Linked DNA regions of Homo sapiens. The protein of the gene in region 1 purifies or fractionates together with the protein of each later gene. This does not show direct contact. Each region holds a gene or a part of one and is shown on either strand. Other genes may lie near its edges. The genes, in order: CEP350 and PPP2R3C.

Evidence for each region.
Region 2: the proteins of CEP350 (region 1) and PPP2R3C purify together in Homo sapiens (affinity purification with mass spectrometry; 2 studies listed by BioGRID and IntAct, with this or other methods). This does not show direct contact.

The regions. Positions count from the first base shown.
Region 1 is NC_000001.11:180,090,717-180,102,362, reverse strand, and holds part of CEP350 (centrosome-associated protein 350), read right to left. Parts: coding exon 11,567-11,646; intron 9,750-11,566; coding exon 7,747-9,749; intron 6,841-7,746; coding exon 6,433-6,840; intron 6,326-6,432; coding exon 6,179-6,325; intron 3,501-6,178; coding exon 3,378-3,500; intron 1-3,377. UniProt on the Homo sapiens protein: Plays an essential role in centriole growth by stabilizing a procentriolar seed composed of at least, SASS6 and CPAP. Required for anchoring microtubules to the centrosomes and for the integrity of the microtubule network.
Region 2 is NC_000014.9:35,102,019-35,113,664, reverse strand, and holds part of PPP2R3C (serine/threonine-protein phosphatase 2A regulatory subunit B'' subunit gamma), read left to right. Parts: intron 1-534; exon of another isoform or gene 535-1,590; coding exon of another isoform or gene 1,591-1,620; intron 1,621-3,022; exon of another isoform or gene 3,023-3,035; coding exon 3,036-3,140; intron 3,141-3,733; coding exon 3,734-3,846; intron 3,847-5,428; coding exon 5,429-5,526; intron 5,527-6,290; coding exon 6,291-6,361; intron 6,362-10,935; exon of another isoform or gene 10,936-10,984; intron 10,985-11,646. UniProt on the Homo sapiens protein: May regulate MCM3AP phosphorylation through phosphatase recruitment. May act as a negative regulator of ABCB1 expression and function through the dephosphorylation of ABCB1 by TFPI2/PPP2R3C complex.

The DNA.
Region 1 (11,646 bases):
GGAGCTTGAGACCAGCCTGGCCAACATGGTGAAACCCCATCTCTACTAAAAATACAAAAATTAGCCAGGCATGGTGGCATGCGCCTCTAATCCCAGCTACTCCGGAGACTGAGACAGGAGAATTGCTTGAACCCGGGAGGCGGAGGTTGTAGTGAGCCGAGGTGGTGCCACTGCACTCCAGCCTGGGTAACAAAGCGAGACTCTGTCTCAAAAAAAAAAAAAAAAAAATGTCAAGGGTGTTAGGCCTCAGTGGCAGGCCCGCCCTCCTTTCACTCTAATGTTCCCCTACCTTTCTGACTGTGGGTCTTAAGGCCCTCCCATGAGAGGGTCCTACCCAATACCTTGGGGGAAGGAATGCTGATGTCATGAAGCTTTCAGAAAAACCCAAGAGGAAAGAGTTCAGGTAGCTTCTGGATAGCTAAACCTGGAGGTTCCTGGAGGGTGGCAGCCCAGGGAAGGCATGGAAGTTCTGTGCCCCTTTCCCATACTCCACCCTATGCGTCTCTGTATCCTTTGCAATATCCTTCCTAATAAACCAGTAAACCTAAGTAAGTGTTTACTGAGTTCTGTGAGCTACTCCATCAAATTAATTAAACCCAAAGGTGGATCTTGGGAGCCCCAACTTGAAGCTAGTCCATCAGAAGTTCTGGAGGCCTGGACTTGCAACTGGTATGTGTGTGTGGAGGGGGCAGGGGCAGTCTTGGGGACTGAGCACTCACTCTGTGGGATGTGACACTATATCTGGGTAGGGAGTATCAGAACTGATTCAGAGGATACCCAGCTGGTGTCCACTGCTTGGTGTGTGGGGGAAAAGTCCACACACATATGGTCACAGAAGTTTTCTTGTGTGGTGATGATTGTTGTAATGTGAGAGTAGAGGAAGTGGTTTGAGAAAACTTTTACGTGTTATTAAAAAATTGTTTTAAATCTCAATCCCCCTAAAATGTAAAAACATTAGAATCTGCAAATACAAGGTTTACCAAATCTAATTATGGGAGAGGAGACTAGTTCATTTAGCATTTCTTGTTAATAATTAGCTCAAGAAGCTGACAGTATCATTTTGTTAAAAAAAAAAATTAAGAAGAACGAGCTCATGCAAAAAGTTATATAGGTCAGGTCTCTCTGTAGGAAGCTAAAAAATATTTTACAACCAGCAAAGGGGATAGTCACATAATATATACTTTATTATTATTGTTTACCAGTTGCTAAATTGCTTCAATTCTTATGCACAGTACTCCCCTCACCCAAGCTATAATAACCTTACCCCTGCAAAAGAAATATTTTGTTTAGTATTTGAGAATTTCTGATAACTGTTAGAGAGATGTCTGCTTAACTGACCCTGTTTGGCACCTACTGGAAGCCTCTGCTGTCAGGGTACTGATATGGTTTGGCTGTGTCCCCACCTAAATCTCAACTTGAATTGTATCTCCCAGAATTCCCACGTGTGTGGGAGGGACCCAGGGGGAGGTAATTGTATCATGGGAGTCTTTCCCATGCTATTCTCGTGATAGCAATTAAGTCTCACAAGATCTGATGGGTTTATCAGGGGTTTCCACTTTTGCTTCCTCCTCATTTTCTCTTACTGCTGCCATGTATTCATCTTTAAGATCTGAGCTCAAATGTCACTTCCTCAGAGAAGCCTGCCTTGACCATCCTCATTATATCAGCTTCCTGTGGTTTTAACAGCTCCCTATTCTTCCATTTTTATGCATAACTTACACACTTGTGTGTAAACGATATATTAATGGCTGGTTTCTGCCTTCAAACTGGAAATCTATGAAGGTGGGGTCTGTGTCTGTTTTGCTTACTATTGTTAACATCAGTCCTTAATTAGCACAATTTTTGACTCAATGTATATACAGAGGTGATTTATAGGGGATATCATCAATTTAGCTGATAGGTTAGATGAATGCCTCTTAATATGCTTTTTTCTTTAATTCCTAAGAAGTAAAGGAAGTAACAACTTGGAAATTAATAACAATTCAGACTTTAAGACATGATAGAAATAGGAGAACAAATTCACTTTCTTGAGATGTGAAGATCTATGAAGAATTAGTTGATTAAAATCTCGTCTCTTATTTTACTGGGCAAGTCACTTAACATCTTTGAATCTAAATTTCCTCATTTGTAAAACAAAGAATAACATTAGTCCTTCCTACCTCATGTAATTATTGTGAGGATCAAATAAGGCGTAAGACACCTCATTTGTAAAACAAAGGATAACATTAGTTCTTCCTACCTCATGTAATTATCGTGAGGATCAAATAAGGCATAAGACACTGGGCGCGGTGGCTCATGCCTGTAATCCCAGCACTTTGGGAGGCCAAGGCAGGCGGATCACTTGTGGTCAGGAGTTTGAGACCAGCCTGGCCAACATGGCGAAATCCCATCTCTACTAAAAATACAAAAATTAGCTGGACATGGTTGCAGGTGCCTGTAATCCCAGCTACTCGGGAGGTTGAGGCATGAGAATCACTTGAACCTGGGAGGCAGAGGCTGCAGTGAGCAGAGATTGTGCCACCACACTCCAGCCAGGGTGACAGAGCGAGACTGTGTCTCAAAAAAAAAAAAAAAAAAAAAAATCAAATAAGGCATAAGAATGATAAACTATAAAATACTAAGCAAATGTTATCTAGTACAGTTATTACTGAGTAAATGAAACACTAGAGAGGTACATACATGAGAACGGTGATAAATTTAAGTATTACACTTTTTTTCATTATATAAATGTCAATATAGATAAAAGGTCCAGAATTAAAATGTTTAGAGTGAAACCTGAATTTTTCTTTTTTTCTTTTTTGATAAACACTTTCCTAATGTTACAGAAATATATTGCAAAACCAAATAAATCCTATCCAGGGAATGTTCTGGATAATGATAATAGTGATGATGATGAGGTAACAGCTATTATTTACTGAGTTGTATATGAGGAACTATTCTAAGTGCTTTACACATATACTTATTTAATTTTCTTAATAATTTTATCAGGTAAGTACTATTATTGTTACCTTCACTTTGCACAAAAATGTTAGACAAATTTGTCCAAGATTACACATCAAGAGATTTAAACATGGGCAGTCAGGCTCCAGAGTCCACACTGGTCTCTTTTCAATTCACTACCTTAAACTTTGCTTCCATTTGAGTAAATTTCTCAAGTTCTACATAAAATACTATTGATCAAGTTAAATGTTCATCTACTGAGTACAAAAGAAAATAGTTAACAAAACTGAGGGGTAGAAATGCAGCAAGTAAAGGCTTTAAGATTTTAATACCATAGATTTAAGAATAAGTCTATCCCTTTTCCTTTTAGAATCTAACTGCATTCTGAGTTTAAAAGATATGGTCAAAATAAAAACAGTTTGGTTGTATACACTGACCAGGATATGATCCACTCGGTCTCTTTTCTTTCTTCCAAATTTCATCATTTTCTGCCAATCTGTTTTGTGGTTTGGCTCCTTTTTAAGACTGAACAACTTGAGTACTTCACTTGCTATGAAGCTCTGTGGAAACAAGACAAATACACGAAACACAAACAACAGAAATTCCTGAGTTTCATGTGTTTACAATGCAGTAAACAGATTCACGATAAGAATATAATATTTACAATAAAATTATCATACAAATTTCTTCCACTTACAGTTCCACATAGCAATTTGAAGGGAAAAGCATTCCAAATGCTGAGACTTTATTCACTTACGCAACATATAAAAGTAAAACCTAGCTGGGCACGGTGACTCACGTCTGTAATCCCAGCACTCTCTGAAGCCAAGGCAGGAGAATCACTTGAGCCCAGGAGTTTGAGACCAGCCTGAGCAACATAGTGAGAGACCTCATCTCTACAAAAAATATATAAAATTAGCTGGGCATGGTGGTACATGACTGTAGTTCTGGCTACTCAGGAGGGTGAGGTGGGAGAACTGATTGAGCCCAGGAGGTCCAGACTGCAGTGAGCTGAGATTGCACCACTGCACTCCAGCCTAGGTGACAAAGCGAGATCTTATCTAAAAATAACAACAACAACAACAACAACAAAGTAAAACCCACTGATTAATCTGCAAAGAAAAATCACTTTAGAGTTTACTTAAGAACTACCATGCTGGGTGCGGTGGCTCACGCCTGTAATCCCAGCACTTTGAAAGGCCAAGGCGGCGGATCACCTGAGGTCGGGAGTTCGAGACCAGCCTGACCAACATGGAGAAACCCTGTCTCTACTAAAAATACAAAATTAGCTGGGTGAGGTAGCGCATGCCTGTAATCCCAGCTACTCAGGAGGCTGAGGCAGGAGAATCACTTGAATCCAGGAGGCGGAGGTTGCAGTGGGCTGAGATCACGCCATTGTACTCCAGCCTGGGCAACAAGAGTGAAACTCCACCTCAAGAAAAACAAAGAAAAAACAACAACAAAACTACCATTAGCTAACTTCAAGCTGGCAAAACTACTAAAGAAAGCATAAAATAAATCTCTGAATTGGAAAAATCTCAAAGAAATTTTTGGGGACAATGTAATGTGAGAAAAGCAAAAGACTTTGGGATAGTTTATTTTGAAGCACCAAAACTCAAATATGTTAAATTAAAAAATATCAACACTTCAGTATGAGAAGCATAATAATTTTACTACTAACAATATTTGAACTATCACCCTTAAAAACTTTACAAAATGTTATGTCAATATTAAAATTAGTGGGCATTTATTGTATGCTATATTGATGCATGTAGTTTGATTGTTGGTATATATTATATATCTTGTCTTACCTCAACTTAATGTTATTAATAATTTATTTTGTTACTTTTATGGTTGTTCTGTTAAAAAAACAATGTTCTTAACAGGGGAAGGGACACATTTATGAATCAGAATCACCTGGAAAGATTCTCAAAGTACCAACGTGCCCGGAAATTCCATCACTCCCTACCTGTTCACAGACACACATAGCATTCAAGCATTTTCAATTGTGAAAGGGTAGAAGGAATGGAGTATACAATGTGTTTTTAAAAAGCTAGTTACTTTAAGCCAGGGGATGGCCAATTTTTTCTGTAAAAAATCAGACTGTAAATATTTTAGGCTTTGCGGGCCATGTGGTCTTTGTCACAACTATTCAATTCCACTGTTGTAGTTACATGTAGTTGTAACATGTAAACAACTAGGTATGGCTGTGGTCCAACAAAACTTTATTTATAAAAACATACAGGGGCCTGGATTTGGCTTATGGGCCATAGTTTGCCAACCCCTGAGGTAAGCATACATCCCATCTCATAAATATCTGTTGGTGTTCTATAAGTATAAAATATTTTTAAAGGCTTTCTGTGATCAAATAAGTTTGGGAAATACAAGTTTAAAGCTTTGCTACTCAGCGTGGTCCTGGGACCAGCAGGACCAGCAGGACCAGCAGGACCAGCATGACTTGAGAGCTTGTTGGAAATGCAGAATTTCAGGTCCTACTCCAGACCTACTAAATCAGAATCTCCATTTCAACAAGATCCTCAGATCATTCACATGCACATTAAAAGTTGAGAATCACTGCTCTGGAAATATAACCTTTGCCGTAAAGAAACATGTGACTAGGCAGAGCAGATTGCCAGCAATGTGACTTTAAAGTTCATAGTCCTTGTAGCTTCTGGACAAAGGTTTACAAAGGTTTCTTAGATAACAAAATAAATATTTTTACGTATCACATTACTATCCTACATAGTTCAAAACCACATTACCAATTTGAAACCTCCAAAGTCAAAGATAAAGAAGTTAACACCTATGTGTCCAGGGCTGGCATATTGAAAAGACATATATATGACACGTATTCATATGTACTTTTAGAACATTATACCTATCTCTAAAGCCCCCAAAACTTACCTAAAACTCCTATTAGTTGCAATAATTTATCTCCCTAGGTATTTCCTAATTTTTCTTAAATATTATAATTATGTATATAGAGAAAATGACTGGTAAAAGAATTTTTTTTTTTTTTTGCACAAACTTGAGGATTCAGCCCTTTCACTCATTCCAATCCCTCCACTGTTCATGGATTCAGTAAGTCAACAAATCTTTATTGAATACCCACTATGGAACAGGTCCTGAAGACACAAAGGTTAATCATACAGAAGAGCACCTGCTTTTACAACATTTACAGATATGTGTAAATGAACAGCAAGTCAAAAAAGAAGACACTTTATAGTTTGCAGTTTACCTTGATTTCATCAAGGTTATTTGGATTTTTCACTCGTCGGAAATAACTAGAGTTGATTCTACATGGCTTCATCCAGACAGGTTGATTTAAGTTGGGATCCTCAGCAAATATTTCCTCAAAAATCTCTTTTGTTAAATCAAAAACCGCCTTGATAGAGAAAAACAAAACAAAACAAAACAAAATGGCTAAGAATCCAAATTTCAGACAATGGGAGAAAAGTTTAAAAACTAAAATTATCCTTTTATTTCACCTACCTGTTTGTAGACCCTTTTACTAGTGCTTTCTATATCTAGACCTTTACTGGCACAGCCAAGCAGTTTTGTAGGAATACTGATGCTATGAAGATCGTGGCCTAATTCTTTCCATTTCCAAAGTTCTTCTGCTGCATTATGTACAAGAATCTCTACTTCTTCTGCAGTATGGGGGACTGCCAATAATGTTTCACATGGTTGTTGGGTTACTCTTTTAGGTTCTGCCATTAGAGGTACAATGGTTTCTTCTGCCTTATTTTTTTGGATCTTGTGAGAAGAGCTCAAACCAAAGTCTTCATCAAACCAGTCTTGATCATCTCCTAACGCGCTCAGGAACTCCCGGCTGAGTTCAAGTTCAGCAAGTCTCTTAGCAAGTTCTTCCTGCCCACTGGCACCAAATACTGGGCTCTCCTATAGAAATGGAACCATTCAAACAGAGCACCATTTAGGGACCTCATATCATTTTTTTTTAAAAAAAGACAGAGTAAATGCATTATTTATATATCTAATATTTCTCTATAAGTAAGCAGAATAAAAAACAATATGGTGGCTACTAATAAACAATCTAAGAAAAAGTTATCCTGTTCCCTCAATTCTACTTATATAAACCTTGCATATAACTGAATTTTTATAAAATGTTTATTGATTAGGGCTCTCCCCGCTTTTTGTATTATCATTATTCTGTTTCTAAAGAACTGTCTATGGGATATGGAAATGGGATATAAAATTTCTCACCTCTGGTGACCATCTGGCTCAAGTTACTCAAAGTCATTACTTTTGCTCAACTGTCCATGGGCAACATAAACAAGCTGATGGTCTGAGTGCATGTCATAGTGGATCTATTTCATTTTACCAGAATCAACATCACAACTGCTAACCTCTGCAGGCCAACCATGACTGAGTAGATATGTAAACAATTTCACAGGCAAAAAAGAATTGGGTGGTGAGCCACTGGAAAGCTCCATGGAACGAATTTGTTCAGTGAATCTGGAAGGAGATGTAATCTATGGACAGTACAGGGGTTGTCAACTCAGCAGTTTAAATGGATGTTTTAGTTCCCCAAAACCTGCCAGTGCTTGTGACAACCCTATATTGACTACTCATGACATAATAGAGGACAATTACACTTCAGCCAGGAAAAACAGCTACAAGGCCTTTAAAAACCAGTACAGTGATCCTTCTCTAATAAACAACACGTCAAGGGAAAAAAAACCTATCAGGAGTCACAGAATTAAAATGTACTATATAGGCAAGGTAAGTTGCCTTGTTAAAAGTGTCAAAAGGTATACTGATACTTTTTCTAGACGAAATACTCACCGGTCTGGGACACATATCTGGAGAGGAAATCTCTTCTTTTTCATCTTCCAATTCAGAACTTAAGAAGCAACCTGAAATACTTGGCGACTGTTCCTCAACATTTTGGGATAGGTCTTGGGGTGTTACTTTCTTTTGGTCATCACCAAGAAGCTCCTGATTGCTAAGCTGGATTTTCTCATCCCTGGTTTTTTTGATTTGTTGTAGTTGATTGACTGTGTCCTTTACAAAGACTTTTAGTAAACTGTCTGTCAGTAAGCTGATTTTTTCCAGTTGTTGTTTTGACTTTTTTTCCTCATTTAGTGATGACTTCAGCTGGGCTTCCAGTTGGTTTTTTTCTCTTGTTAAAAGATCCAGAAGTGGTGTACAAAGCTTTTCTGAAGCTTCAGCATATAGGTTGTCTTCCTCTTCTGTAAACTGCTGTTGCTTCTCCAATTCTTCGGAAAAGGTATTGTCTAAAGTGTCATCTTCTGCAGCGATGGAAACCTTTTCTGTGGCATCAGAAATGAGGTCTTTGTTTTCCTTTGAAGAAATCTGTGAATCCACTGAAGACTGCTGGTGAACATGGGCTTCAAGTACCCCAGAAATGTCCTGTACATTGTCTGTTTCTATTTTAAGGCTTCTACTTCTATTAACTGAGGCTTCTATATCATTCACACTAGGTAGGGATTTCTCATAAAAATATTCACTGACATCCTTTTCTCTGTCTTTTGGACCCTCTGTATCATTTTGCTCTTGATTATAGCACTGATATCGTTCATCTGAGTAACAGTCTTCATCTTCATTAATGTCTACATAGTCATCAAAGTTTTCTGGAATGTGAGATATTTTTTGAGGAGGAGCAAAAATACCATGCTTTTCTTTGCACTCAAAATATGCAATACCATCATATGTTCCATTGTTATTTCCTTCAGGTTTATCTAACTCCACTCCGGCCCAAAATCCTTTAGCAAAACTAGTCTCACCTTTGAATCGAAGAATTCCTGGCTGAACATTTCCAATCAACACCCTATCACCAATGTGGAAATCAAATAACTCGTCTGCAGTAGGAACTGAAGCCAAGGAAGGGGATTCAGTAACTTGCTGTTCATGCTCCACATCACTGCGCTCCTTACTTTTCATCAGCTCAGTAGGGGACTTGAGTTCCAACAGCCTGTCAGAATGAACATTGCTATGGATAGAAAGGCTTTTCTCACTTAGGCACTCACTGATTTCCTCATTACTACCAAAGCTAGTGGCTCCACTTGTAGAGCTCCTCATTGGCTGTGGCTTATCTCTGCAAGACTGAGAGTCTTTCCTGAGTGACAGCAAAGATGACACCTCAAAATCATCTTTGTACAATTCAGCTGAAATTTCTTTCTTGAAAGAAGACACTTCAAAATCTTCAGAGTATGGTATCTCTTTAGGAGCAAAAAGATGTTCTGACCAAGACAAATCTTTTTCCTTTGTGTTCTTTTGTTCGTGAATGTCTTTTCCTGATTGGATGTTTGGACTATGATTCATATCTTGATCTGACTGTCTCTCTTTCAACATTTCCTCACTTTTATGGAGATTTTCAATAGCTAATCCAACTAGGTCTTTCTGAACATTTTCAGAATCTAAAGGAAGATCTTTCTTTGAAAGAATTTCAGATGAATCTCCCTGTTCTAGGACTAATTTCAGTAAGACATCAGATTTACCTTCTTTAGAAAAGGCATCTTCAATCTTACTCTTCTTCAATTTTGTATACTCTATTTCTTTTATTTCTGATTTTTTACTAGATTCTCCAACCTTGCCATCTGACATATCAAGAATTCTACTAGTGGCATTTAATTCTTTGAGAAGATGTAATGCAGGTACATTTTCTAGAGAATCTCCAGATTCTTCTCTGATTTTCCTTGATGATCTGAGAACTGGAGATGGGGTCTGAAAATCTTCTGTTCGACTGTCCCATTCATTTACTCTCTTTGCATATGCAGATAAAGACCTTTCTGATACTGATCTCTCAGAACCAGACAGTGAAGCATCTTAAAGAAAAAACAAATCACCACATCAAAATTATTTAATCACTATCTTTCAATTTTGTGAACCAAAGTTTAGAGAAAAGCCAAATTTTAGTGAAAAAAACCCCTCTAGTCAATAAATATGACCTGTTTTGGCTACTTTATAAGTTTTTCTTTTAAGAGAATATCATCTGTATCAACATTTAAAATTACTGAAAATTCTAAAGTTTGGAATAATTTCTTAAGCACTGTCTTAACTTATAAAGTGAAGAAAAATGTATCTAAGTTGATGGAACCATTGCTTTGCACATTCATCCTCAAATCATGCAAAAATAGAATTGTATGATGGTTATTACAAACATTTTTCAAACAGGAAACTAGTGAAGGAGAAACAGACTTCCATATATACTTCTAAAAGAATACATTTTCCTAGGAGCTTCAACTAAGCTCTTGAATTAAAAAGAAAATAGATCAACTATTTCTGCAAATATAGCACTTTAAGAGCTAAACGTGCAAAATATGATCAAAGTACAATATAGTGAGCTAACAAACCAAGAGTTAAAAGTTTTAAATTCAAATCGTTTTTTTTTTGTAAGAGCAAGAATCTGCTCTGTCACCTAAGCTGGAGTGCAGTGGTCACAGCTCCCTGTTGCCTTGAACCTGGGCTCAAGCGATCCTTAGCCTCAGCCTCCTAAGTACCTGGGATTATAGGCACGAGCCACTGTGCCTGGCCAAATCTCTATTTGTCACTGATGTTTCTTTGCACCTCAGTTTTATTTTCTCACTGAATTACATTTTTTTTTTTTTTTGAGATAGTGTCTCAATTTGTCACCCAAGCTGGAGTGCAGTGGCTGATCACAACTCGCTGTAGACTCAACTGCTTGGGTGTAAGCGATCTTCCTGCCTCAGCCCTGCAAATAGCTGGGACTATAGGTGTGCACCACCATGCCCAGCTAACTTTGTATGTTTTGTAGAGATGGAGTTTCACCATATTGCCCAGGCTGGTCTCAAACTCCTGAGCTCAAGTGACCTGCCTACTTCAGCCTTTCAAAGTGTGGGGATTATAGGCGTGAGCTGCTGCGCCTAGCCTACATTTTATTTTTAATAATTAACTTTCTTTTGGTTAAACTGAAAAATGTATACAGCTATTTAGCTAAGAAATAGTTAGGCTGAAAATATATATAACCAGATTAAAAATCTGGTTAGGGGAAATTCAGAGATGCAGATGATATACTCAGCTATTTAATCTTTATACTTTGGTTTTTCTCATAAATTTTGGACAATAAAGACTGATTCAGCTGAGTGTGGTGGCTCATGCCCATAATCTCACCACTTTGGCTGAAGTGCTGGTAATGTTCAACCAGGCTGAGGTGGGAGGACTGCGTGAGTCCAAGAGTTCGAGACCAGCCTGGGCAACAACGGTGAGACCCCCCCGTCTCTTAAAAAAAAAAAAAAGATGAGCTGGGCATGGTGGCATGTGCCTGTGATCCTGGTCCTGGCTACTTGGGAGGCTAGGATGGGAGGATTGCTTGAGCCCAGGGGGTCAAGGCTGCAGTAGTAAGCTATGATCATGCCACTGCACTCCAGCTTGGGTGACAGAGTGAGACCCTGTCTCGAACAAAAAAAAAACCCAAAAAACTAAAACAAACAAAAAGGATTCATATAATTTACACATAGCCAATAAATCACTTTAAAATATAAAAGTAACTTTAAAATGTTAAATAATCTACTTAAGAAATTCACTTTTTAATAAAAAAGCTATAGAGGTAGAATTTTGTAGGCCTTTGCATAAATCCTTAGACTATGTAGCTACAAGTTAATTATTTTTTCTAGTTACATACCAACATGTTCAGCAATAGACTCCAGGGATCCTCTGGAACGTTCTGACTCTGTTAGTGATTTCCAATTCTTTGCCGTTTCA
Region 2 (11,646 bases), on another chromosome or scaffold:
TAAAAGGCATGGTTTGGACATTATGGTGTCAGTGAGGTAGTGGTGTGGGTTTTGTGATCAGTGGGAATGCATGAAAAGAGTGCCATAGTGGGAGTGAGCTGACCCAAGCCCCCATTCCTACTCTGTCTCATTCCTAACAGCTCTTGGATAGGAATGGTGTGACCCCGTTCCTGAGCCCAGGACTGAACTTTCTTGTACTTCCGGGACCAAACCTTTGCCTTCTTTTTCTGGTTCCTGAGGGAATCTCCTTTTTTTCCTTTCTTCGTGTCACTTCTCTCTTTGGCCACCTCTAGATCTTAGATGGTCTCCTGTCTGCAGCTATGGATTTGTAAAAAAGTCCTTTCCCTTCTTTCTTCTTCCTCTCCATGGTCCCACTGCTTCAGAGAAAACACCTATTATCTTGAGTCACCACTTCTCTCCTTGGCTGATTAGCTGGTTAACTAGCCACTAGAACACAATGTCAGTCACCCCCAACTCCAGCCCCATCCCCATCTCCTAATGTTTCTTCTGTTGACGAAGAGTTGAACTCTGTAAAATATTTGAAGAGATTTATTCTGAGCCAAATATGAGTGGCCATGGCCTGTGACACAGCCTTCAAGAGATCCTGAGAACATGTACCAAAGGTGGTTTGGGTGCAGCTTGGTTTCATACATTTTAGGGAGGCATGAGACATCAATCAAATACATTTGAGAAATACATTGGTTTGATCCAGAAAGGTGGGACAATTTGAAGTGGGGCTTCCAGGCTACAGGTAAATTCAAATGTTTTCTGGTTGACACTTGGCTGAGTTTGTCTAAAGACCTGGGATCAAACAGAAAGGAATGTCTGGGTTAAGATAAGAGGCTGTAGCGACCAAGGTTTTATCATGCAGATGAAGCTTTTAGCTAGCAGGCTTCAGAGAGAATAGGTTGCAAAATGTTTCTTATTAGACTTAAAGTCTGTGTTGATGTTAATGCCAGAGAGGTATAACGAGGCATGTTTGACCCCCACTTCCCATCATGCCCTGAAACAGTCTCTCAGGTTAAATTTTAAGGGCGCTGACTGAGGAGGAAGTCCATTCAGATGGTTGGGGGGCCTTAGAATTTTATTTTTGGTTTATACTCCTTTAACTCTGTTCCTTCTGATGGGAGGGATGGCATCTTAGTTCCTGGAAATGAAAGATGAAAACCATAACCCCAAGTTTTGACGTAAGGTTTACCGAGGTAATTTAATGGGGCTAAGATGTAGAAAAGGAAGAAGAACTCTTTAAAGTAAATTATTCTGGCTGGGTGTGGTGGCTCATGCCTGTAATCCTAGCACTTTGGGAGGCCAAGGTGGGAGGACTGCTTGAGTCCAGGACTTCAAGACCAACCTGGGCAACATAGCAAGACCCTGCCTCTATTATTAATTTAAAAAAGAAGAAATAAAGCAAATTGTTCTAAGTCAGGTTGGAATGAATCATTCTAAAGCTCTGCTCATGGAAATCACCCCAGTTGGCAAACCCTCTTGCCTGGGAGGCCAACATAATAGGCACTGCCTTGACTGTCTCCAAGAAGAAAGGTGATCCAATCTCAACAGGCATGCTTTCCTAAAACTGGACAAGAAGAATAAATGGTTTTTGCTGGACAGGAAGAATTACAGGTAAGAACCACCCAACAGGTTCTTCTTGCCTGCTACCCAGATAGAGCCAATTTATCAAGATGGGAATTGCAAGAGAGAAATAATTTCATATACATGGAGACAGCTAAATGGGAGACAGGAGTTTTATTATTACTCAAATCAGCCTTCTTGAAAAGTTGGAGGCTAGGGTTTTTCAAGGATAGTTTGGTAGGCAGGGGCTAGGGAATGGGTACTGCTGATTGGTTGGGGATGGAATCACAGGGATATAGAAAAACAGTCCTGGTCCTTGCGTGCTGAGTCTGCTTCTGGGTTGGGGCCACAGAGGAGTGGCTGGTCTGAGAGGGGCCATTGGGTAGTCAGAAGTGCAAAAGCCTGAAAAGACATCTCAAAAGGCCAGTCCTGTGTACTACAATAGTGATGTTATTTACAGGAGTAATTGAGGATGTTGCAAATTTTTGTGCCCTCTGGAATAATAACTGCTAATCATTTAACTGACCTGCATCTTAGCAGAATTCTGGTCCTTCGCATCCTCCTGACCTGGTGTCCTTTCATTAGTTTTACAAAGGCAGTTTAGTTTTGGGATGAGCTATTATCATTTAAATCATAAACTAAATTTCTCCCAAATTTATTAATATCTTGGCCCATGCCCAGGAATGACCAAGGGCAGATTGGAGGTTAAAAACAAGATGGAGTTGGTTAGGTCAGATCTCTTTCACTGTCATCATTTTGTCACTGTTATAATTTTGCAAAGGTGGTTTTGAAATTGTCAATCTCCAGTTAATCCTCATTTAATTCTTCTATATCATTCTTTTTTTTTTTTTTTTTTTTTTGGTAGATGGAGTCTCGCTCTGTTGCCAGGCTGGAGTGTAGTGGCGTGATCTCAGCTCACTGCAACCTCCGCCTCCTGGGTTTAAGCAATTCTCCTGCCTCAGCCTCCTGAGTAGCTGGGACTACAGGCACATGCCACCATGCCCAGCTAATTTTTGTATTTTTAGTAGAGACGGGGTTGCACAGTGTTGGCCAGGATGGTCGATCTCTTGACTTCATGATCCGCCTGCCTCGGCCACCCAAAGTGCTGGGATTACGGGTGTGAGCCACTGCCCCCAGCCAATTCTATATCATTCTAAGGAAGCCAGCATGCCCAGCCAATTCTGTGTCATTCTAAGGTGACAATAGAAACACAGTGCTTTAAGAAAATAAAATGAAACTTGGTCTAGACTAGCTTTTAGAATGGCTTTTTCAGGGCAGAGATCCAGCCTTTCTGATCACCGATTCTCTGTGGATCAGTTTTTGTTAAACAAATGTTAAGCACAATTAAGGTGAGATACAAGAAATAATTCGAGGCGGTGGCATACAGTTATTTTATGAGGCCACATACATTTTATAGGATCCAGTAGTCTAAAATTTACATGTAGAAATTTACCTTGTATTTTCAGCTGCCTGCTGAAGATGAAGTCTTACTACAGAAATTAAGAGAGGAATCAAGAGCTGTCTTTCTACAAAGAAAAAGCAGAGAACTGTTAGATAATGAAGAATTACAGGTAAGAACAAAGCAAAAAGTTGCTTTAGATGTTAACCATTTCTCATTTGTGCTACTTAAATCATGCAGGATTTCTTGGTGCCTAATGGAGTCCGTACTACAGAGTGGTACTACATAGGCTCTGAAGCAGCAGTTCCCACCAGAAGCAGCCGCTGAGTTTGCATGGGTCATGTACCCCAAACATAGTGTTGTTTGTTATTTTTGTTTAAGGCCCTAGGTGATTCTAATGTGCAGCCAAGGTTGAGAACCACTGCTGTAGGGTCAGACTACAGAGGTTCAAATCCCAGCCCTGCTATATGACTTTAGGCAATGGACTTAACATCTCTGTGCTTCGATTATCATCTCTAAAGTAGGGATAGCTAACTATATCATAGAGATGTGGATTAAAGAGGCAGTGTATATCAAAAGCTTAGTAGGCACTCAATAAATGTTATTTTTATTGTTAGTAATCAAAAGGATAATAGGGCATGAGATTCATCTTAATATTGACTCTGCCAACAAACTCTCATTTTAGTGGAAAGCACACATTTAACTACATATTAAAATCTTGTTGTTTTTAACTTACAACATCTTCACTTCCACAATTCTCTTAAGAACTTATGGTTTTTGCTGGACAAACACCAGACACCACCTATGATTGGAGAGGAAGCGATGATCAATTACGAAAACTTTTTGAAGGTTGGTGAAAAGGCTGGAGCAAAGTGCAAGTAAGAATAATATAATTAACAAAAGAATGTGTTATGTTAAGCATTTTAAATGCCTCAAATATTGGCTGGGCACAGTGGCTCACACCTGTAATCCCAGCAGTTTTGGAGGCTGAGGTGAGAGGATTGCTTGAGCTGGGGTGTTTGAGGCCAGCCTGGGCAACTTAGGGAGATCTTGTCTCTACTAAAAAAATTATCTGGGTGTGGGGGCGTACACCTGTAGCTACTCCGGAGGCTGAGGTGGGAGAATTGCTTGAGCCCGGGAGGATGAGCTGTGATTAAGCCACTGCACTCCAGCCTGGGCGATAGAGCAAGACCTTACCTTTAAAAAAAATAAACAAATCCTCAAATATTAAATGAAGTAAATGGAATGACATTTGAGTCCATTTAAGTTACTAATTAAATTTAATAAAATTATTTACAGTCAAAAAATCACATTGGTATGAAGTTATTAAAATAAATAATATAGCCAGGTGTGGTGGCTCATGCCTGTAATCCCAGCACTTTGGGAGGCTGAGGTGAGCGGATCACGAGGTCAAGAGAACAAGACCATCCTGACCAACATGGTGAAACCCCGTCTCTACTAAAAATACAAAAATTAGCTGGGCGTGGTGGCGTGTGCCTGTAATCCCAGCTACTCAGGAGGCTGAGGCAGGAGAATCGCTTGAACCCTGGAGGCGGAGGTTGCAGTGAGCCGAGATCGTGCCACTGCACTCCAGCTTGGCAAAAGAGCAAGACTCCATCTCAAAAAAAAAAAAGAAATAATATAGTTTATGACACTTTCAGCCTTAAGACAGACGAAAGCAAACAAAAAAGAATGCAAGGCCAGGCACTGTGGCTCACGTGCCCATCTCTGCAAAATAAAAAAAACTTTTAATTAAAAAAAAAAAGAATGCAAACATTTATGACTTAGGCTAGGCATGGTGCCTCACGTTTGTAATTCCAGTGCTTTGGGAGGCCAAGGCAGGTGGATCACTTGAGGCCAGGAGTTCGAGATCAGTCAGGGCAACAGAGCAAATCTCTGTTTATATATATATATTTATCTTTTTTTTTGAGATGGAGTCTTGCTCTGTCGCTAGGCTGCAGGGGAGTGGCGCAATCTCAGCTCACTATAACCTCCGCCTCCTGGGTTCAAGTGATTCTCCTGCCTCAGCCTCCCAAGTATTATTGTATTAACAAAAGAATATGTTAAGCATTTTAAATGCCTCAAATATTGGCTGGGCCAATATAAATACAATATAATACAATATAAATACCCAATACAAATACTTTTTGTATTTTTACTAGAGACGGGGTTTCACCATGTTGGCCAAAATGGTCTCGATCTCTTGACTCATGATGTGCCTGCCTCAGCCTCCCAAAGTGCTGGGATTACAGGCAAGAGCCACTGCGCCTGGCCAAATCTCCATTTCTTTTAAAAAAAAAAAAAAGTTTGACTTAATATTTTAAGTTTTTGAATTATAAGGAGTCTCTATTGTTCTTTCATTTTTAATTGTATGAATTTATGCCATTGTTTGCTAATTTATGTAGAAGTCATTTTCTTTTATGTTGGCAGATCATTTAAATCTTTATTTTCTTTTCTTAGGCAATTTTTCACAGCAAAAGTCTTTGCTAAACTCCTTCATACAGATTCATATGGAAGAATTTCCATCATGCAGTTCTTTAATTATGTCATGAGAAAAGGTGATTCATTTTTACTGTGCTTGAACTCCTTATCTGGGAATCAAGTAGGTTTTTGGTCTGTGCTTTTATAAGTATTTCTTCTATGTGAAATCACTCTAAGTTTGAATAGTAGAATTTCTTATCTTTTGACCAAGATGTGTTACATAAACTTGGGTTAGCATAAAAAAACAAAAATTTTTTAAACCCTCATGTGTCTTAAAGATAATAGTAGACTAGAAATATTAAGAGCTGAACCAAGAGTTTTAATGTATGGTAATTTGAAATAATTTTAATTTACTGATAATTTTATTTTACCAGTATATTACAAGTTGAGTTGACTGATAGTTTCAAACCCAAAGCTGTAATATCAGTTTCAAGGAGCATCAATTAAACAGCTTGGACTTATGATTCCTACAAGTGCCATAATAATCTGTGAAAGCCTATTGTATACAATCTTTAATAATTGGTTGCTGTAATTAACCTCAGAAATAAAAGCAGCTTCACTGAAGGCATAATATTATACTAGCTGTCCCTGTTTGGTGGAACACCAAGTTTAATTGGTAAAGAACAGTATCTTCAAGGTGTCAATTTTATTATAGCTTTAGTCATGGTAGAATTGTTGAACTCTTCCATTCTATGGTTTTTTGTTTCAAGCAATTTTGTGGTGAGAAGAAATGTTTTTAGAGTTACTAGATTAGCTTGTCTCAAATCTGGCTCTTTATCTCCTTTTTCATATCTGAAGGATAGATCTTAAGAATTACTTTCATTTTCTTGTTTATTGTCAGTTTGGCTTCATCAAACAAGAATAGGACTCAGTTTATATGATGTCGCTGGGCAGGGGTACCTTCGGGAATCTGTAAGTGTTAACCTTATAGATATTATATTAACTCTTATAGACACTAAAATGTAAACTGTAGTTATCACTGGGTGTTGGGATTACAGGCTGTTCTCATAATACTTTGTTTTATTTCTGTCTGTGTGTGTTTGTGTGTACATATTTAGTTTTACTGTAACAAAGCAACTTGTACACTTTCAACTTTTAAAATTGAACATCATCTTTCCAGTGAAACAAAAAACAAATTTAAAATAAACAAAATTACAATAGAGAATGTCAATTCCAAATAAGATCCTACAGGTTCTACTGATTCTCCCATGGAGTAGCAGCCTTCAAGTCATCATTAAGAGAGAATTTATGCTGGGTGTGGTAGCTCACACCTGTAATCCCAGCACTTTGGAAGGATGAGGCAGGCGGATCACCTGAGGTCGGGAGTTTGAGACCAGCCTGACCAACATGGAGAAACCCTATCTCTACTAAAAATACAAAATTAGCCAGGCTTGGTGGCACATACCTGTAATCCCAGCTACTTGGAAGGCTGAGGCAGGAGAATCACTTGAACCCAGGAGGCAGAGGTTGCTGTGAACCGAGATAGCGCCATTGCACTCCAGCCTGGGCAACAAGAGTGAAACTCCGTCTCAAAAAAAAAAAAAAAAAAAAATGTATTGGCTGGGTGCAGTGGCTCACGCCTGTATTCCCAAGGCCTGTACTCCCAGCACTTTGGGAGGCTGACGTGGGCGGGTCACCTGAGGTCAGGAGTTTGAGACCAGCCTGACCAATATGGTGAAATTCCATCTCTACTAAAAATAGAAAAATTTGCTGGGCTGTGGTGGTGCATACCTGTAATCCCAGCTATTCAAGGGGCTGAGGTGGGAGAATCGCTTGAATCTGGGAGGCAGAGGTTGCAGTGAGCCGAGATTGCACCACTGCACTCCAGCCTGGGCAACAGAGGGAGACCCTGTCTCAAAAAAAAAGAGAGAGAGAATTTATTTTAAAGGTGTCATTTTAAACTGCAAGGATGCCCCTTAAAAATCACAATTAAACATGCCAAAGGAAAAGCAACGTTGTCAAAATGCTCACTTTAAACTATCAAAACGTTTCAAACCTACCCTTTGCTGACCTATAACCCCATTTTGTAAAATTTATTTTCTTTTTTTAAATAAGAGACAGTAGACAAGGATGCCGGGCGTGGTGGCTCACGCCTGTAATCCCAGCACTTTGGGAGGCCGAGGCGGGCGGATCACGAGGTCAGGAGATCGAGACCATTCTGGCTAACACGGTGAAACCCCATCTCTACTAAAAATACAAAAAAAAATTAGCCGGGCGTGGTGGCAGGCACCTGTAGTTCCAGCTACTTGGGAGGCTGAGGCAGGAGAATGGCATGAACCCAGGAGGCGGAGCTTGCAGTGAGCCGAGATCACGCCACTGCACTCCAACCTGGGCGAAAGAGCGAGACTCCATCTCAAAAAAAAAAAGACACAGTAGACAAGGAGATGTTGGTAAATGCTAACTGTCCATATTCACATAGAGACATAGTATACTCTGCGCTCAATAGAGGAAAGCAGCTAGAATTCTATGCACGACTACACAAGGGCCTAGCACCTTCCAGCTTCCAGCAGAGCAAAGGGAACAGGTTTTTCTTTTTTTTTCCATAGACCTCGGTGGTGTTGATTCCATATAGTTTTTGTTGAGACACAGGATGTTTCCGTTTTGGGGTTTGGTTTTTTATTTTTATTTTTTTTAACAAATGACATGTGTTACTAAACAAATGTTTAATGTATATTGACTATACAAATTCCTTTTTAGATTCTTTTTCTTCAAACTTTAAAAAAAAAAGGCCTTTTGGCTGGGCGCGGTGGCTCATGCCTATAATCCCAGCATTTTGGGAGGCCGAGGTGGGCAGATCTTGAGGTCAGGAGTTCAAGACCAGCCTGACCAACATGGAGAAACCCCGTCTCTACTAAAAATACAAAAATTAGCCAGGCATGGTGGTGGCCACCTGTAATCCCAGCTACTCAGGAGGCTGAGACAAGAGAATCGCTTGAACCCAGGAGGTGGAGGTTGCAGTGAGCCTAGATTGTGCCATTGCACTCCAGCCTGGGTGACAAGAGCGGACTGTCTCAAAAAAAAAAGCCTTTTAAAGGGGAAAATAAAAAGAATGTAGCATTTTAACATTTAAAAATCACTGAAAAACGTTTGATTATTCATGAGTGATATTAATGTGTCACTATTTTTTAAAGGGCCAAGAATTCCACCCCCCCGCTTTTTTTTTTTTAAGAAAATATAAGAGAAGCCAGACACGGTAGCTCACGCCTGTAATCCCAGCACTTTGGGAGGTGAAGGCGAGTGGATCACTTGATGTCAGGACTTCGAGACCAGCCTGATCAACATGGTGAAACCCTGTCTCTATTAAAAATACAAAAACATTAGCTGAGCATGGTAGCAGATGCCTGTAATCCCAGCTACTAGAGTGGCTGAGGCAGGAGAATCGCTTGAACCCAAGAGGCAGTTGCAGTAAGCTGAGATCATGCCACTGCACTCCAGCCTGGGCAACAGAGCAAGACTGTCTCAAAAGAAAAAAGAAAATATGAGAGAGAAAATGAATGTGACTGTATTCCCACCTCTGGGTTTAAGATTGCTAGGTCAGTTACCAAGAGGCTGCTTGTTTCCTATTAGGCACTGCTGTAATTAGGCCAAGTTATCAACAGAGAATTATAACTTCATGGTCCAAATGGCTATGCTTCTTCTGAGTATGGGTATCTAAATTATATGGACTTACTTTTCACCTCAGGCTTTTTTCCCAAATATACAGTGCTTTTTTTAAGATTGTAGGGGAGAGGGGAAGGGAGTTGGGCATGAATATAAACTAGGTTAATTAATCAAATAATTATTCAGATATAAGGGTTAAAGAAATGTAAATTTCTTGTTATAGTTCGTATGGTTCCTGCTATAATTTGTTGCATTCTGTTTTGTCTAGATTTCTGTAGATAGAATCTGTTAGCTCATTCTGAACATTTATACTGTAAAACCTTTCCAGGGGCACACTACAGTTCTCTTTAAGGTTCAGACCAACTTGAGAATAAAAGGCTCTTGCTTCTGGCAAGGAAGACATAATTAGCCACCTGCTGGTACTCGTTTAGAGGTCAGGTCCAAAACTGGAGTACTTCTCTAGCTCTGAGAATTCTTGTTAGCAGTTCACTTGATTTATAAAAACAGCAATATTGATTTATAAAAACAGTCCCCTGTTACTGCTTGTCTTGCCTCTTTCCATGGATGGAAACAAAGATTGAAAGAGAGATGAGCAAAAGGGAGAGAAAAGAAACAGTGTACTTCTATAGTTGTTTTTAAAAAGGAATAATTTTCCCCTTCTCTCAATGAAAGAAAACACTTTTCTCAAAGTATTTCTTCCATCCTTGGCCCATTGCCTTTTGAAACCCAGACTTTGTGTCTTACTAATTTGAAAGGCAGTGGCTTCCAGACCAACATTTATAATCTGAGTAGAGTATACAAAGTTTTATTCACTTATTAAATCTTATTAAGCATTTAGTAGACATTTATTTGGGGGCAGGTATTATTCTAAGCTTGTAGGGCTCATGTTTTACTTTGTGACAATCTGTTTGCCCAGATTTCTTTTTTTTCTTTTTTTTGTTTTCTTGCCCAGATTTCTGTAGATGGAATCTGTTAGCTCATTCTAAATGTTATACTTTAAAACCTTTCCAGGGACACAGTACAATTTTCATTCCCTTGTAGACCTATTTTTTCTAGCAGAGTGGGAAGACAGACACTAAATTATAAGCAGATAATATCAAATAGTGACAAGTTATATGTAGAAAATAAAACAGTAAACTAGGCAGGAATATGACTGGGATTGACAGACGATTTTAGGTAGGCTGGAAGGAGCATCTTTTTGAGATAGTGATTAAGTTTTAGCCATGAAGTACGAGAAAGAAGCCAGCCTTATGAAGATGTAGTATAGAGGAAACGGCAAATACAGTGTCTCCAAGGCAAAATTAAGCCTGGACCTGTTCTAGGAACAGAAGGAAGCCAGTGTGGCTAGAACAAGGACTATAGTAACAGAAAATGAAGTTGGAGAAGTAGGCAGGGGCCACATGTAGGGCCTTTTGGGCCACAGTAAGGACTTTGGATTTATTTTGAGGCTAACGGGAAACCATCGGAAGTTTTAAGCTGAGTCTGTCAGGATATGATTTACATTTTAAAAGATCATTCTGGATGCTGTATGGAGGATGTAAGGAACTCAAAGTACGGCCAGGCACGGTGGCTCATGCCCGTAATCCCAGCAACTTTGGGAGGCCGAGGCAGGTGGATCGCTTGAGCTCGGGAGTTCAAGACCAGCCTGGCCAACATGACGAAACCCCGTCTCCACTAAAAATACAAAAATTAGCTGGGTATGGGGGTAGGCACCTGTAATCCCAGCTACTTGGAGGCTGAGGCAGGAGAATCACTTGAACCCAGGGGATGGAGGTTGCAGTGAGCCAAGATTGAGCCACTGCACTCCAGCTTGGGCGACAGAGCAAGGCTCCATCTCTAAATAGATAAATAAATCTGGAGTATAAGCAAAATATTTAGGCACCTACCATGATAGTCCAGGTGAGATGATGGGCCCATAACTAGGGTAATTGGTGGCTGTAGAGAAAGCAAGAAATAGATTAATTCAATATATATTTTGGACTCCCCTCCTTCCCAGAAAAAACACAAATTGCTGCTAGATTGGATGTTCAGGGTAAGGAGTGTGAAGGCATTGATGAAGAAAAAGAGAAGCCAAAGACAAGTCTTAAATTTTTATTTTGAGTAACTGTTGGAATAGAGGAAAAGCAGGTGAGGACCAAGGTTGGAGATGACAAGAGAGCCCCATTTTGGATACTTCAAGTTTGAGATGCCAGTTGTCCTATAAACTTGAAAGTATCTCAGATCTACCAGAAATTTGATATTTGAAATGGTTAAAGCAAAAATAACATTGTTAAAATAAGTATAAGAAACCATGGGAAGGCACAGTGGCTCACGCCTGTAATTCCAGCACTTTGGGAGGCCAAGGCAGGCAGATCACTTGAGGTCAGGAGTTCGAGACCAGCCTGGCCAACATGGCGAAACCCCCTCTCTACTAAAAATACAAAAATTAGCCAGGCGTGGTGGTACGTGCCTGTAATCCTGGCTACTCAGGCTGAGACACAAGAATCGCTTGAACCCAAGAGGTGGAGGTTTCAGTGAGCTGAGATTGCGCCACTGCACTCCAGCCTGGACTGGACTGAGACTCCGTCTCAAAAAAAAAAAAAAAAAGAGAGAGAGAA